Homo sapiens: one gene and its partner. Each later gene encodes a partner of the first gene's protein in a complex. Links are inferred from orthologs where the notes say so. Each region holds a gene or a part of one and is shown on either strand. Other genes may lie near its edges.

Region 1 (8,593 bases):
ATCCTTTATCATTTCAACAATGCTTACGGCATCTTCACCAGCAGTAGATTCTATCTCAAGAAACCACTCTCTTTTCTCCTTCATAAGAAGCAACTCCTCATTCATTCAAGTTTGATCATAAAATTGCAGCGATTTAGTCAACTCTTCAGACTCTGTTTCTAACTCCAATTGTCTTGCTATTTTCACCATATTTGTAGTGATTTCCTCCACTGAAGTCTTGAACGCCCTCAAGGTCATCCATGAGAGTTGGAGTTAACTTCTTTCAAACTCCTGTTCATGCTGATACTTTTACCTCCTCTCATGAATGTTCTTAATGGCATCTAGAATCCTTTCCAGAATGTTTTTGGTTTACTTTGCTTAGATCCATCAGAGGAATCACCATCTACAGCAATTTATAACCTTATGAAATGTACTTGTTAAATATTAAAACCTGAAAGTCAAAATTATTCCTTGATCCATGGGTTGCAGAATGGATGCTGTGTTAGAAGGCATGAAAACAATATTACTCTCCTTGTACATCTCCATCAGAGCATTTCAGTGACCATGTGCATTGTCAAGGAGCAATAGTATTTTTAAATAAATCACGTTTTATCAGTAGGTCTCAACAGTGGACTTAAAATATTTAGTGAGCCATGCTAAACAGATGTGCTGTCAACCAGGTTTTGTTCTTCCACTTATAGAGCACAGCAGAGTAGATTTAGCATAATTTTTAAGGGTCCTAGGATTTTCAGAATGGTAAATGAACATCTGCTTCAACTTAAAGTCACCAGCCACATCAGCCCCTAACAAGAGAACTGCCTGTCCTTCGAAGCTTTGAAGCCAAGCATTGACTTCTATAGCTATGAAAGTCTTGGACAGCATCTTCTTCCAGTATAAGACTGTTTTGTCTACATTGAAAATCTGTTATTTAGTGTAGCCACCTTCATCAATGTTCTTGGCTAAATCTTCTCAATAACTTGCTGCAGCTTCTCCATCAGCACTTACTGCTTCACCTTTCATTTTTATGTTAGGGAGAGGGCTTCTACTCTTAAACCTCATGAATCCACCTCTGCTATCTTCAGACTTTTCTTCTACAACTTCCTCACCTCTCTCAGCCTTCATAAAAATGAAGAGAGTTAAGGCCTTGCTCTGAATTAGGCTTTGACTTAAGAGAATGCTGTGGCTGGTTTTCTATCCAGAACTCTAAAACTTTCTCCTTATCAACAATGAGGCTGTTTCACTTTCTTATCATTCCTGTGTTCACTGGAGTGGCACTTTTAACTTCCTTCAAGAGCTTTTCCTTGGCATTCACAACTTGACTGTTTTGGGTATGAGGCCTAGTTTTCGGCCTATCTCTGCTTTCAACTTGCCTTACTCAGCTTAATCATTTTTAGCTTTGATTTAAAGTGAGAGATGAATGACTCTTCCTTTCACTTGAACACTCAGAGGCCACTGTAGGGTTATTAATTGGCCTAATTTCAGTATTGCTGTGTCTCACTGAGGGACTGGCCCATCAGCGGAGCAGTCAGAATATATTCAACATTTATCAAATAAGTTTGCCATCTTAAATGGGTACAGTTTGTGGTGGCCCAAAACAATTCCAATAACAATATCAAAGATCACTGTTCACAAATTGCCATAACAAATGCAATAATAATTTAAAAGTTTGAAATATTGGGAGAATTACCAAGATGTAACACAGAGACATGAAATGAGCACATGCTATTGGAAAAATGGCTCTGATAGACTTGCTCGACAAAAAGCTGTCACAAACCATCATTTTGTTAAAAAAAAAAAACAATATTTGCAAAGCACAATAAATGAAGGTATGCCTGTATACTACATATTTATTTTTAATAATCATATAAGAAAATTAATTGGATATAAAATAGGCTGTTCTAAAACAGCAAGAGGGAAATAAACTTTAACAATGCTGACAGCAGCCATGGCATACTTGAATTTTTAGGACTCTTGTTAAATATGGGTATGGGAACTTACCCTCTGCACTAGTATCCAGACACTTACTAGATTATGGCCCATTGGGGTATTTGCCTCTATTACATATATTTGCTAGACTGTCATTATACCTTGCAATCTAGTGTCTTTTTCTAGGTTGATATTGTCACGTTTAATCTATTATGGCAATGATATTACTCTTGCTATGTTAAATGTTTTTATCAGACTTCCTTGTAGCCCCAACCAATCTGAGAAGATTGAAAATCAAGGAATCCTTCACTCCTTTTGTAAACTTGGTAAAATGGAATCAATGTTTACTAGATCTGCTGTTCTTGTGAAGATTTCTCTGTTCTTCTTCATCAAGATTTGCCAATCTTCCTCTGCACTCTTGCCTTCTGCAGTCTTTCCTCTTCCATAAAAATATCGCTTATAATATTCTTTTTTTGAAATGAAGTCTCACTCTGTCTCCCAGGCTAGAGTGCAGTGCCATGATCTCGGCTCACTGCAGCCTCTGCCTCCCAGCTTTCCAGTGATTCTCCTTCTTCAGCCTCCCAAGTAACTGGGATTAGAGGTGCCTGCCACCATGCCCAGCTAATTTTTTGTATTTTTAGTAGAGATGGGTTTCACCATGTTGACCAGGCTGGTCTTGAACTCCTAACTCCTAATCTCAGGTGATCCACCCACCTTGGTCTCCCAAAGTACTGGGATTACAGGCATGAGCCTGTATGCCACCATGCTCAACTTCCTTATAATATTCTTCTAGTCTTATTTCCCAACTGCTGGCTTTTATATTTTGAATTGTCAATAGAAAGCCCTGCCTATCGTGATGAGGTTAAGGACACATGTTTTGCTGAGAGAAGTAACTTCCAGCTGAGAATCTTGTTTAGCAGGAGAGAAAATCCTCTATTTTAGAGCCTCTCCTGGAGCTTAGAGTAAGCATTGGCTTTTAGAGGTGTTTTCTCCCTTTTTGATGTCTGGAAGCACTATTTTCAAGTCTGTTAGAGACCCACTTTAAATAAGTACAGGTGCTAATGCTCTGAGTGCAAGTCTGTAAGGGTTAGTGAGTCCTCAAATCACAGAAGTCTCCTGACCAATGCTGGGATGTTCTACTGTTCTCCAAGAATCTGCAGCTTAAAAGTATTAAACTAAATACAGCAGACACCCTCAGCATAGCAGTGAACCACAATGGCAGCTGACAAGCAGGAACATTTAATGGATTGGTCAGCAAGACCACACTTATATCTTGTTTAAAATGTGTCCTTTCCTTTGGGAGACTGAGGCAGGCAGATCTCTTGAGGTCAGGAGTTCAAAACTAGCCTAGTCAACATGGAGTTTTCTAAAAGTACAAACAAATTAGCCAGGTGTGGTGGCAGGTGGCTGTAATCCCAGCTACTTGGGAGGCTGAGGCAGGAGAATTGCTGGAACCCAGGAGGCTGAGGTTGCAGTGAGCAAAGATTGCACCACTGTGCTCCAACCTGGGCAAAAGAGCAAGACTCCATCTCAAATAAATACATAAAATAAAATGCATCGTTTCTCTCAACAGCAAAAGCCTTATTTTTTCATCCTTTAAATATGTTACTTTCATAGTAGGATAAGATGGTACCTTGTCTGAGAGGCTAAGACCCCCAGGCCACTTGAGAATTTGAGAGCTTTTAGAACTTGATGAGCATAGCTGACTGGATACTTCGTGTCAGCACTGCTTGTGGTAATTACAGGATCTGTGGATCACAAGGCTCACAACTTGTATCACAAGTTCTACAAGAAAATTGGCTAACACATATTTGGCTCTGTTAATCATTTGCTGAGTTTATATCTTGTCCCACCAAATGTATTTTTTGAAATGCCATTACATGAAAAAGTTTCACTATTCCAATTATCTGTGTTTACCAACTTGTGGAGTAAGAGTGGCTGACTGAATATGTGCTTTTTAACTACACTATTATATACATTGGCCAAGCTTTTTATATTAACCCTACCCATGAAGTATCACCAATATTTCCCCCAGTGTGAAATTGACATTTGTCAAAAGCCTTTTGCCATATAAAAGTTTTTAGTTCTTATATATGAAATCTGTCCCTTTTTTTCGACATGAGTTCCCCAGCCTGCTTAGCTTTGCCCCTACCACCCAAGATTTTTAAGCTTTCTATATTTTCTTAGAATTTAAGATTTTAAAGTCTTTACTTTTTTAAATCATTTATTTGTAAAGGGACATATTTCTCAAGTGTGCTAGTTTTCCTTGATTTTAATGGATTAAAATGTGTCGTAGGTGAGCCATTTTCTTCCAAATGACGAAGAGTTTTTGTTCCTTTGAAAGTCTGGCCCAGGATTTTGTTTGTTTTTGTTTTTTTAAAGTTCTTATTTTACTTACAGAGTTAAGAAAGTTGAATAACTATACAACCAGTCTCTAAATAGAAGTTCTAATAAATCCTAAGATGTTGCAGGGCACTGAAAGAGGACAAAATTTGATCCCTAAAGCCCTCTCCAATCTCATACTCGGTGAAAATAACAAACAAAAGGCTTCAGTGTTAGTGGAAAACTGAGTTCTTAAAAAGCAGGTAAAGGTCCTGTTTGGTCCTTCTCCAGAGCTGAGGAGAAAGGGTTTTCAGATTATAAATAACAGAGGTGCCCTTGTATGGCACAGAATTGCGATAAGACTTTACTTCTTAGGGGCTTAAATAATGAAGTCAGTAAAAGAGGACTGAAAACGAACATAAAGAAGAGCTTTAGCTTTGACGCAAAGAATTACATCAGTGCTTGACAAAACCGAGGATTCTTAATTTCTAAAAACGCTTTCTTTAAGCACTTCCTAACCTTTCATTATCTGAGACAACATATCAAGTGAGCAGCAGTACAAAGGATGCATGTGATTTCGAAATGCCACAATTGAGCCAACTGCAGTTGCACGCGTACGTAGTATAGAGAGGTGTGATCAAAAAAAGAATATAGGGAGCATAGGGCTTCGTCTGCATCAAAAGATACTCTCCCCATCTTCTATAGCCTTAAGTTTTGCGAAGGTAAGTTTCTCCCCGCTTGAAAGCGCCCCCAGGGACAAGAATTCATCTTGACCAAGCCTAAGGCCGTGGCATGCAAGGTGTTGAGTCACCGGGTACAGCGGTCTTGCGACATAAATATTATTTGATGACGAAGGTACTCGGGGCCCAGGTGCCAAGGTAAACCACTGGCAAAGATGACCGTGGTTAAGGCAGTAGAAAGCAGGCTCGACACTGAGACGCGGTTCCAGCCCTAGAAGGATTGCATTTTACGATTCAGGCAAACTTCGAGTCTCCTCATGTGACATGTGTGCACTCCTGGACCGTTTTAATTATGAGAAACGTGGTTTGCAGCATGATTCCTTCCAGTCGATAAATCGGAATCTCTCTCGCTCCCACCCCTTCTTAACTTCAGGCTTCCTGCATCCCGGAGCACTCCCGGCAGCCCCTTCCCTCCCCCGCCCCGGGGATGCTCCGACTCGGCGCTTAGCCATTCATCAACCGGTTCACACCGGCGGCGGCCGCCGCGGAGTGACGTCCGGAGGGGGCGGGCCTCCGCCCCCGCCTGTCGGCTCCTGGCCCGCGGTTCCAGGCCGCGATTGGTGGCTGGAGGGTTGCACGTCGCGCCGGCTATAAAGGGGAGGGCTTGTGACGCAAGGGCGCCTCGGCGCGTGTATTGGCTCCTTCGGCTGCGGGCCGGCTCGGCTACGCGCTCTGCTCCGAGCCGCTCACTGCATGGTAGAGTCTGGTGCCCCCGCCGCCGCCTGCATCGCCGCCACCGCCGCTCCGCCACGACCACCGCCGCCTCCTGCCCTGCAGCCACCGCCACCGCCTGTGTCGCCGCCGCCTCGGGACCGGCTGTATGATTAGGCCACAATCTTCAATGAGTAAACATATTCCTGTGAGTAGCCGTCGCATCGTCGCCTCTCGGGCTGGGAATCCACGACCGGCCCCCCATCCCCGCTGTCGCCTTTGTTCGGAGCCCGGCGTCTCCTCCAGGTTGCCCCGGGTTGCGGTTCCGGTGGGTCCCGGGTGGGAGCGGGCGGGTTATGGCCCTGTGGCCGGCCGATTGCGGCCGGCTGTGCGGAGGCAGATGCCGGGCCCCTCGGGGCTGCGGGGTGGCGGTTGGCCGCCGGAGGCACCGGCTTTTGAGTCCCTCCCGAGCCCGGAGCGACGGGGGCGGCGCGGTCCGGCTTCTGCGGCGGCCGGGGGCAGTTTCGGCTTCCGCAGCGGGCCGGGTGGGTGGCACAAAAGCCGCTTTGTGACCGCCGCCTCCGCCCTTGGCCCTTTGGTCTGGCGCGACCCGTCCGGGCATGGCAGGCTCCGCGGCGTCCCGGGGCCTCTTTGTTCGGCCGGAGGAGAGTGGCTGCACTGGGAGCGGGAGACGTGGCCCGGGGTGGGGCGAGGGCTGCGCGTGTCACTGCGGAGCCGGATACGGGGAGGGCGCGGCGGTGGCGGGTTCGCCTCCAGATCCGGGCGGGCGTGGGGTAGGCCGGACAGCCAGGCACGGGTGGTAACGATCTGGTTCCAGAGCTTCTCGGAGCTCCGGGGTGGGCGCGGGACAGCCACTGGGTGCAGCTACACTCTTGTGCTCGACGGCCGGGACCCGAGCCTCAGACAAAATGGCCTCGGCGCCCGCGCCTGACTGAAGGCGCGGCGCGAACCCGTGATTGCGGCGCGGAGAGGGGGCGCAGCGGGCGTGCTCGGGCGCACACAGCCGCGTGCGCGGGGCGGCGGCCCTCTGGGGCATTCCGCGAGCTGCACCCCTGCCCGGGCCAGAGTGGGGTTCTGCTAGGTGAGAACTTCGGCCGTCCGCCCCGCCCTCCTCCCAGGCTCCACCTGGTAATTCGAGCTGTTCCGGATTTATCGCCCCACCTCGGGCTCGTGATAATGGGAACAAGTCTAGTCTTGTCCTTTCTCTGGGCCAGTCGTCGAGAAATGGCCTGGTTCGGAGCGTCTTGGAAACTGACAGGGCTACTGTTAGTTACACTGACGCGAAGGACTTCCCGTCCGGGCACCAGCATACATTTCCCCTGCCAATTTTGGAAGGGCCCTGGATGGCGCCTTTTAATCGGGGACTGTTTAGAACTATCCCTGAGCTCTGTGGTGTAATATGTTGTTGCCTCCTGTTGGTTTGTGGCAGCAGTAGCCAACCAGAGACGGAATTCTGAGGGTTTTTTATCTTCTGTCCGCGGAGCCCCCTACCAGTCCACGAGTATTAAGTTATTTACACTACGATTGGAACTGTTGACCTGCCCGACATCTAGATCCTGAGGCAGTGCTTCCTGTTACTCAGTCAGTTGAAAACTAGAAAACTAAATCATTCCCAAGAGTGAGCAGCATTTTACACATGCTTTCTTAGGTGCCCTAAGACCTAAATAGATGTGGAACAGACTATACAACGAATTGTTTGTGACAAAGGAGTTACACACATTAATTGGCTTGACTCTGCAGTATAATAATGATTTAAGCTTCTGCACAGAGATTACTCTTTCCTCCTCTCCCTTCTTGTATATGATTGTGATTATAATGCAACTGATAGGTGGGAGGGAAAAAATCCCCATTATGGATAGTTTTTCCTGTGGGTAGGAGATTGGGAATGGAGGAGTGTCTTGGGCGGAACAGAAATCTATCGGTGGCCACCACTGCTTTAACAGACGAGTCCCCCCATCCACTAGGTGGCTCCACTCAGTAAAAATAACCATTTCAGGAAGGGAATTCTTAATATAGTTCTTTCTCTGCTTCCTGATGAAAGTGCTTACTTACATGAAGGGATATGGCCAGACTAGGTTGTAGCCGACAGGAGTTTTAGCTATTAAATATGGAAATAGTGGTGTGAAATACTGCCTCAAATTAGCTTTTAATTGAAAAAAAGGTAATACCTAGAAATTAGAATACTGTGATGAGTCATTATAAAGCTTTTAAAGATCATTGTATGTCATTGGGAAAGTGTCAGAATACACTTTTTATTCTACGGAGGTTGTATTTAGAATTTGGGGTGAAAGTATAATGAAATTATTTTCAGATTACTACAATCTGTATTCACTGTAACTGTGATGGCTTTGTAATTTAGACACTTAATTTTTTAACCCAGCTGACCAACTAGGTGAAGTAACCTCTGAGGGCTTGTTTGAACAAACTTGTGATAATGAAAGTTACCTTTTTTATGGGACCTTTTGATAAATGATTGTTAATGCTAGTTGTATGTTTTACCAGAAAAGTAGACTGGGTTTTTGACTTGATGTTTTCTGCAGTAATCATCATAAGAATTATTCTTCAAAATTTAGCAAAGTTCTAGAAACTATAACTAGCATGGGACTATTTAAAGGTGTAAAATGGAAATGGGAGCAGATCGTTTGAATTTTAATTTTAAGACTTCAAATGCTTAAATTTAAGCATGGAAACTAATGGAACCTTTTGTTAAAACACTTTGGTAATGAGAGTACACATGAAGTGCTTGAGGCAGTGACTATGAATTACTGCTCTTGTTAACCTGTTATTAATACTTTCCTTAGTGCCCTCTTTACTCCCGAGTACACAAGTACCTTATAAACTATTTGGAAGAAGACTGATTATTAACATCAGTGTCTTCCATGTACATATTTTAAAAATATGCTGTGACTATTGGTTTAATGTTTGATATTGGCATAAAAATGGTTTAGTTCTTA
Region 2 (7,593 bases), on another chromosome or scaffold:
CTGTACTCTCTGCAGATGGTCCAAAATTGTAATGGAGTCTGTATTAGAAGAAAATAAGGGTAAAATCAGGCTGAACTGCATGTATATGGCTCCACTGTGGCTTGTGACACTTTTAAAATCATCCGTATGTCAGTGTATCTGGATACACGAGGAAAAGGAAAGAGTCTCAGAGTGGAACAAAGAGTGGGAAGAGGTGATCTGTAATGTTACAAATTGTGCTATTACTCCAAGGTCCAACTTTTCCAGTGCATTACATGGTATTGTATATCAGTGGAGAAATGTATTATTTCCATGATCAAATGTAGTCTCTGTTAAGGTCAAGTTTTCTTTTATAAGCCTTTAATTCATCCTCAGTGACTCTGGCAAGGCTGCTTCTCTATCACTGGCTTTGCACAGAAGTATGCTCTACTTGCGTTGCTTTAGGGCAGGATTCTATTTTGAGGGAAAAGACAGTATCCTTATTACCTTTTGTTTGTTTAATAGCACAAATGCTTATTTGTTATCCAAAAACAACCTCCTTCTTATCTGTGATAAATCTATAGAAAGAATTTAGCTGCAAGTGGACAAAGGAACAAGCCCCCAGAAAAGAAAGGGAAGAACTGCCTTCTTATACTACAGAACATGCATTAGTGTGGGCTATATAGCTGTGGCTCATGCTACCCAATTCCAGATTTCTTTGTCCTCTAAGAGTTGATTGCTGTATATTAAAATTGAACATCAGAGGATGGGAAGAGGGCTCTGTAAGCCAGAACCTTACTAAAGTAGAGGGCACAATCAGTGTGAATAAATTCACTTCAGAATCTCAAGTCAAGGCCAGGCACGGCGGCTCACGCCTGTAATCCCAGCACTTTGGGAGGCCGAGACAGGCGGATCACCTGAGGTCGGGAGTTCGAGACCAGCCTTACCAACATGGAGAAACCCCATCTCTACTAAAAATACAAAATTACCTGGGCGTGGTGGTGCATGCCTGTAATCCCATCATCTACTCAGGAGGCTGAGGCAGGAGAATTGCTTGAACCCAGGAGGCGGAGGTTGCAGTGAGCCAGGATTGTGCCATTGCACTCCAGCCTGGGCAACAAGAACAAAACTCCATCTCAAAAAATAAAAATCCCAATCCCAAGTCGAAATCACCTCTTGTTTTAAACAAGAATGAATCATTACTGTGTATGTTAGGGTATTAAAACTGTTTCACCAGTACAGTGAAAGTTGTTTCAACATTTTAAACAAACAGTGGTTATAGACTCTTTCTTTAACCATTGTATATTTTCTTCCATTCTTGTCATTGGTCAATAGGGGAGGGTAGATTAGCTGCTCCAGAATTCAATAAAGTGTAATATTTCTAACGGTGACTTTGACCTATTCTGTAGTACAACTGTAATAGCTATTGGTCTTCAAGTGGGTTTAGATTTGGTGACATCAGTTTGATATTCTCTTAAAGGAAATAAATATTCAAGAACTGATTATGTTCTAACATGATTATATTCATGGTGTTACATAGGCCTCAATTTTTTCACAGAAAGATTTTTGGAACAGGACTGTGAAGTGAGGCTTTTTAAAAAATTATTTTATAAGCAGAGAACACAGCCTGATAACTTAGTCAAGGATATACTGTCTGTCTCACTACTTTGGACTTATATGGCTTCAGATTAAGTCATCCAAGAAACATACATACATTCTAAATGGTATATATTGGGAATATATGCCCCTTTAAAAGAATCAGGTCAGAAATGCAATAACAATTAGACTAGACTGTTGCCCGTGTTAGGAGAATGTGTGGTCATCCTAGTTACTAATTACTCTCACTCAAGATGGAGATGTTGTCCAGTTTAACATAGTCTTAAGTTTTCTTAAACCCAAATAATTTATGAGTAGCTTATTACATCTGCAGAGCTACCTTATTATAATAGTACATTTACATATTGTCTCTTTTAGAGTAAGGACCACATGATTGCTTTGCTTTAATTTACCACTTTTTGTATTGCATCCATATAAGAGTGTCTTACTAGCCAGATGATTCCATGGCAAATGATTCTCTGGGTCCAAAGATCGGAAAGTGAAAAGCACACAGCTGGAATAAGCAACAACTCCACTGCTAGTTACAGCTCTCCGTAGGACCACCAAAACGTATTCAAGAGCTCTAGGATTCCATAAGACCCAGAGCAAAATGGTGCCTCTCTGTATATTATTCTTAAGAGTGTGCTGGGAAGTCAATGGTCCATGGGTAGGCAGGGCAGCTGTAACTGGGCTTTTTAAAACAAATTATGAGTTTTCTCTCTGTTGCCAGTAGTTAAGGAAGCTGAACTTAAAAGGTATACTTTTTTCCTTAAAAAAAAAAAAAAAAAAAAAAAAAAAAAAAATCCTGCGGAGTTTTATACCGTGAGAAGACCATTCTGCCACTTCTTTTGAGAATTTTTTCCCAGGCATTTTGAAAACACTATAGGCATTGTAGAACACCAGGCAACCCCTTCTTGGTTGCTAGACTGAACTCCCAACCTTACAGCATGTACTGACAGGTCCCCTAGCCTCCCCAGCAGTTGGTCAGTGGTACAGCAGACCCAGGCCCTGCTGGGTTTCCTTGGGCAGAGGAATTGCCCAGTACATTCATTCATCTCTGCAAAGATAGATAGTCAGTGAAAACTCTGATGGTGTACTTCAGAAAAGTTGGTCACAGCCAAGAAAGTTTAGGGTTCTATTTAGACCTAAGATTTTTCTCTTGCCATAAGCATACCTCTGCTGAGACCTAAAATAATAACGCAAACCCTTCAAGCTACCCTAAGATACTTTTAGAAGTCGTTTTTAATAGAACTACAAATCCTTAAGTCACATTAGCATTGTTAAGAAACCACTTTAAAAAGCCACATGCAGTTGCATGTCAGATTTAGAAGTATTTTGTCCATGTTTAGGTATTTCTAAATCAGATGTATTTATTTAAGAAATACTTTGTCAACAACTTTAAAGCCCAGCAATTTTTCCAAGGCTGCCTGGTCATTTTAAAATAAATACTCTGCTTATTCACCACGAATAGCCTGAGACAACTACATATTTAAGTCTGTATTAGGGTAGGAACCTTACCCACATTCCATGTTATGGAAACTATTTAATCTGTCTTTGATGGTGGGAAAAATGGTAACTATGATCTAGCTATTGCCATACAGTTAACGCTCCAATTCCTCACTGGGCTTAGTAGTTTAGGGCTCAAATACTTATGTTTCTCATGATGATCTTTAGTGGTGATCAGGGAATCCAGCTTTTCTTAAAAGTTTTTCCTCAAATAGAACAATTTCAAATGATACACAACTTTTGGGAGGCCCTGAGAGTGAAATCTCTACCATGGAGCTACCAGAGCAACCCTGCAGATAGAAGAAAAACATGCACTACTGCTAAGGAGCAGGGATGACCACAGGCACAGGCAACCAGAAAGCAGAAACAGGTGACTTCCAGAAACCCCCGCTGCCCCGTCACGCACCTCCCGTAACAAGAACGCAGCACGTCACACAGTTCTCGCGCTGCTAGGTATCTAGAAACAGCAGAAAGCAAGTCCTTTAAACAGGCAGCATGTTCATTTATAGAATGAGTAAAAAGCTTTTCTATTCTTTAACCTGGATTTCTCAACCATTTTTCCCTGTCCTCACACACAATGTCTTCATCCCAAGGCCACAACAGTCTGATTCATTCCAACAAAGGTATGTGATCTCAAAAATAAAATATATACAGAAGTTTCTCTGTAGAGCTTTAACACAAAAAAGTACTCCCCATTGAACACAAACATTTCATCTCAAACTTGCTGACTCTGTTTAAGGATGAGGAATCTATGTTTTCCAATTTAAATTTAAAACACAATGATGAATTTTGAATCTCGTCCCTTTGTTTCTTCACACAAAATAACTAGGTACAACTATGTCCCCAGATGTTCTGGTCTCCCATGGAGCTCTTCCCAAAGCCATGTCTGGCGAGGGGAGTAGACAAGGCCTGAGATAAACCTTCCCACACAAACTGGAGCCCAAGCAGCTGAGCACACATTTTTCCCACGAAAGGCAGCAATAGTCCTTCCACGTCTCACAAGTTCTTGAGATACTTGGAAAGAAGATTTGCCAAGCAAACCTTCCCCACACTGAAAAATGTTTACTCAGTGTCCAGTCTTTGAGAGAGTGTTCTCACCAGAGTTATCTTTGACTTGAGTGTGTGGGTATCTTTAAACAAGTCACTTTTTGGACCCACTGACCTCAAGTCAATGACTTAGTAGAACTGCAGTAGGAAAACTGGCCCCATCTAAAATTTCCTATCATGTGTTGGCCTCCTGTTTGAACACTGCACAGTCACTAATACCCTGACAGGAAAAGCACTTCAGAAGTCGGGCAACTAATTCTCCCTTAGAAACGTGCATCCTCAGTCCTCAGTAATCCACTAGGGGAGATGGCATGCCAGCAGAAAGTCAGAGAAAAGGGCCCTAGAACCATCCCTTTGTCCTGGGACTGCTTGAAAATAAGAGCACAGATATGAGGCCCTTGGAGGGAAAATGACAAAACCACCATACAAAGAAAGCAAAAGAGTTTATTATCCACCTAATAGAATTCAACTTTTTGGCTTTAATAAAGAATCATCTCTTTTAAATTACCTTCAAAAAGTATAAAATAAGTTTCCAGAAATCAACTCCAGGCTATAAAAAGGTCAGTTTTTAACCACTTTCTCTACAAGACCCTCTGATCAATATTTGTTTCCTCAGAAGTGCCGAGTTGAAAAACGGCTCTAGGGAGCACAATTTTTGTGAAATAGAAACCCCGGGTGCATCACGATAAAGCTTAGAAATGAGCGGATGTGTGCGCACTCTGAGGATGCAGGGGGGAGTTTTAGGCAAATCTCATCTTGACAGCAGGAAAAATTGCCTCCATTTTCCTTGGAGCATTTCCTGATTTGAGCTAAGGGCTCATCTAGACCAAGTGAGTAAAACAGGAAAAACAAACCAAGGCAGGAGGCTGGGAGTGAATGTGCTACCATGATTTCTTTCCCTAGCTCTGCTGCCACTTTCTGCCCTGCTTCTAATGAAAGCAAGCAGGGTTCGAAGACAGCATTTCACTGGGCTAAGATACACCTCATTCTACTTTCAGGTAGTTGGGCGATACCTGGGGAGATGGGAGCGGTAGTTAGGTCAGGCAGTGTCTGAAAGCCAATTCTGTCAGCAGTTCTTCCCTGAAATGTCTCCATCCACAGAACAAGTGTAAGTAAAAGACTGCAAATGCCACGGTTAAATAAATTCAGTGGAGACTATAAATGGACCAGTCAAGAGGCTAAATTTTCAGAGCACGATCCTCTTTGGAATGTAAAATAGAGACTAAAAGTGGAGAGAAAAGGGATTCCAAAAAGATGTGGTTTAGGAATGGATCACAGAGGGTCCCTGAAGCTCCACCGTAAGTTCTTCAGGGACTGGTCTCATGTGAGTGATGAGGGTAAGAAGGAACAGAAGACAAAGTAGTGATGGAAAAGAACGTGTATCATACACACCGATTACTGGGGAATGCAGGATATCCACTGAATCCTGAAGACCCACCTGCACACGCCTCGCCACACTCAGGCCGGATGTTTTCCACTTGAAAGTGACTATCCATGCCTGCTCCGACCTTCCTCCCAGGCTTAGCATAGCAGAGGAGGACCTATAAAGCCATCCTTGTTTTCAAGAGCCAATTGAGAGGCCTGAATGAGACCTTTGGTCTTACCTAGGAAATGCCGGCTTAGCCCAGCGGCACTGTGTGTTGTTATTAGTGACTGAGCAGCCAATGTCTGGGGCAATTTGACTGGATACTCCGAATGTTCTTATGTAGAGAGTAACTGATGGAGAACAGATTATAATCCTTGCAAAGAAGGACACCTTCCCCCTAGGATTGGCTGTACCAGGCTGTGACTTGGAGGCACAGAACTAGTACCCACTTCTCTTAAGACTTTACACTGTCCAAAGAAGATGCTCTTCTATGTTGTCATGCTGAGATCCAGTCCCAGCTTTCCCACCAGCAAAGCCAGGCAAGTGGGTAGGGCAGTTGGTTCAGCCAAGCTGAATACAATGGCATGGTTGGTGTTGCACAGATGAAAGGGAAGAGGGAACACACATCTGCTAGCAGGGTGAACAGAACATCATTTATCTAAATAGAATAGAAATAAACAAAAACCTTGTAAAACAATCACAAAATTTACAAATAAATTGGTACAAAATAAATAGGAGAGACTGTACATCTACATCATTTGAATTATAAAATGCATTCATTAAGACAATCAGCTCAATCCTATACATGTCATTTGTGCTTATTTAGGTTTATGTACACAGCTCTGAATACTGTGTTCAGAAAACTTCACTGCTCAAATGCATGACCTGTACACTATGATACAGTGAATAAAGGCTGAGGAGGATCAAAGTCAGACACAAAGCAGGGTCTTACTTGAGGGCCAAGGCAATGTTGGCACTGGGCCTCAAAACCAAGAAAAGGCATATTAAGAGCCCAGATAGGCAGGCAGCTTCCATTATCCAGAAAGATGGATTATGCAATCTAAGGTAAGTGGAAGAAACCATTATCACTGTGGGGCCAGGCAAGTGACCTGCCTTGGGAGGAGGGAGGCCGTGGACTCACAGCTGTACTGTACCCTACATAGGGGAAGAGAGCCTGTCACCAAGAAACCACCTTGGAAATATTTCATGGAGGTACTTGAGAGGCCCTGCCCACAAGGTAGGAGACCTGCCTCCATCCTCATCCAAAACACTGGTCATAAGGAATACAGGTGGGCCCAACTAAAGGGGCTGGGGATGCTAGGGCCAACATAAAAGCAGCAACCTGTTTATAAAAAACAACACTACCCTCTCACCCGCCTTAAAGGACAGCAGAACCCTAGGATCCATGGATGAGGAAGCTTCAAGACAGACCTTGTCCTAGTCACAGACGAAGTACTAACAGGCATATGTACATAATAAATAATATAAAATAAAGCATATACATTTGTGGGTTTAAAGGACTCAAACAAGAAAAAATTGATAACTTCACCTTCACAGTAGATTCAGACTTGGGGAGTAATGATCAGAAGCGAGGCTGGGGCTCTCTGGGGAATGAGAATCCTAAGACCTCATTCTTCCCAACTTTGCTCTGCTCTAGAAGTCTGAGCCTCCAACAAAAAAGGCAGGCACCCAAGCCCCACCAGGCCCATTGGATAGTTCTCTTCAGGGTGAATCTGCAGCCAAATCTGGCCCCCAAAGAACTGCATCCTAAAAGTGAATCCATGTGGATCAGATGCCGGAAGGCGTCCTTCCAAGCGAGGCAAGACAATGCTCCCATTCTTCTCATTTGTTCACGGTCCCAATGGGCATTAAAACCTGAAAACCTTGTGTACTCAAGTCTTTCTTACAGTATGTGTTGGATCTGTGTACATATAAACCTTGGCATACAAACACCTAGAACTTTACTCTCTTGCAGCTAGAACCTTTGTTTCCATGATGCTTGAAGTTCAACCTGGTATTTCCCATCAAAAGATATTTAAAACAATTCTAGTAGAGATGATGTCAGTAGCTCTAGCATACAGAGAGAACGTGCTTACTTGAGCTGAGCCAACCACAGTGGT

What was found. The genes of interacting proteins can lie anywhere in the genome.
Region 2: the proteins of PTP4A1 (region 1) and CNNM2 are in contact, whole or in part, in a crystal structure (PDB 5MMZ), measured with the Mus musculus proteins. The link is inferred for Homo sapiens from one-to-one orthologs. Residues at the interface, in NP_035330.1 of Mus musculus: Asp72, Gly73, Ala74, Gly107, Leu108, Gly109, Arg110, Arg137, Arg138, Gly139, Ala140, Phe141, Asn142, Lys144, Gln145; in NP_291047.2 of Mus musculus: Phe526, Asp528, Val551, Asn553, Glu556, Gly557, Asp558, Pro559, Phe560, Tyr561.

Annotation. Positions count from the first base shown.
Region 1 is NC_000006.12:63,566,894-63,575,486, forward strand, and holds the start of PTP4A1 (protein tyrosine phosphatase type IVA 1), read left to right. Parts: upstream 1-5,586; 5' UTR 5,587-5,787; coding exon of another isoform or gene 5,788-6,537; exon of another isoform or gene 6,538-6,638; coding exon of another isoform or gene 6,639-6,675; exon of another isoform or gene 6,676-6,714; intron 6,715-8,593. Other genes in the region: uncharacterized LOC128125822, read left to right, coding at 5,788-5,826; translation initiation factor IF-2-like, read right to left, coding at 5,792-6,537, 6,639-6,675. UniProt on the Homo sapiens protein: Protein tyrosine phosphatase which stimulates progression from G1 into S phase during mitosis. May play a role in the development and maintenance of differentiating epithelial tissues.
Region 2 is NC_000010.11:103,081,905-103,089,497, reverse strand, and holds part of CNNM2 (metal transporter CNNM2), read right to left. Parts: 3' UTR 1-7,593.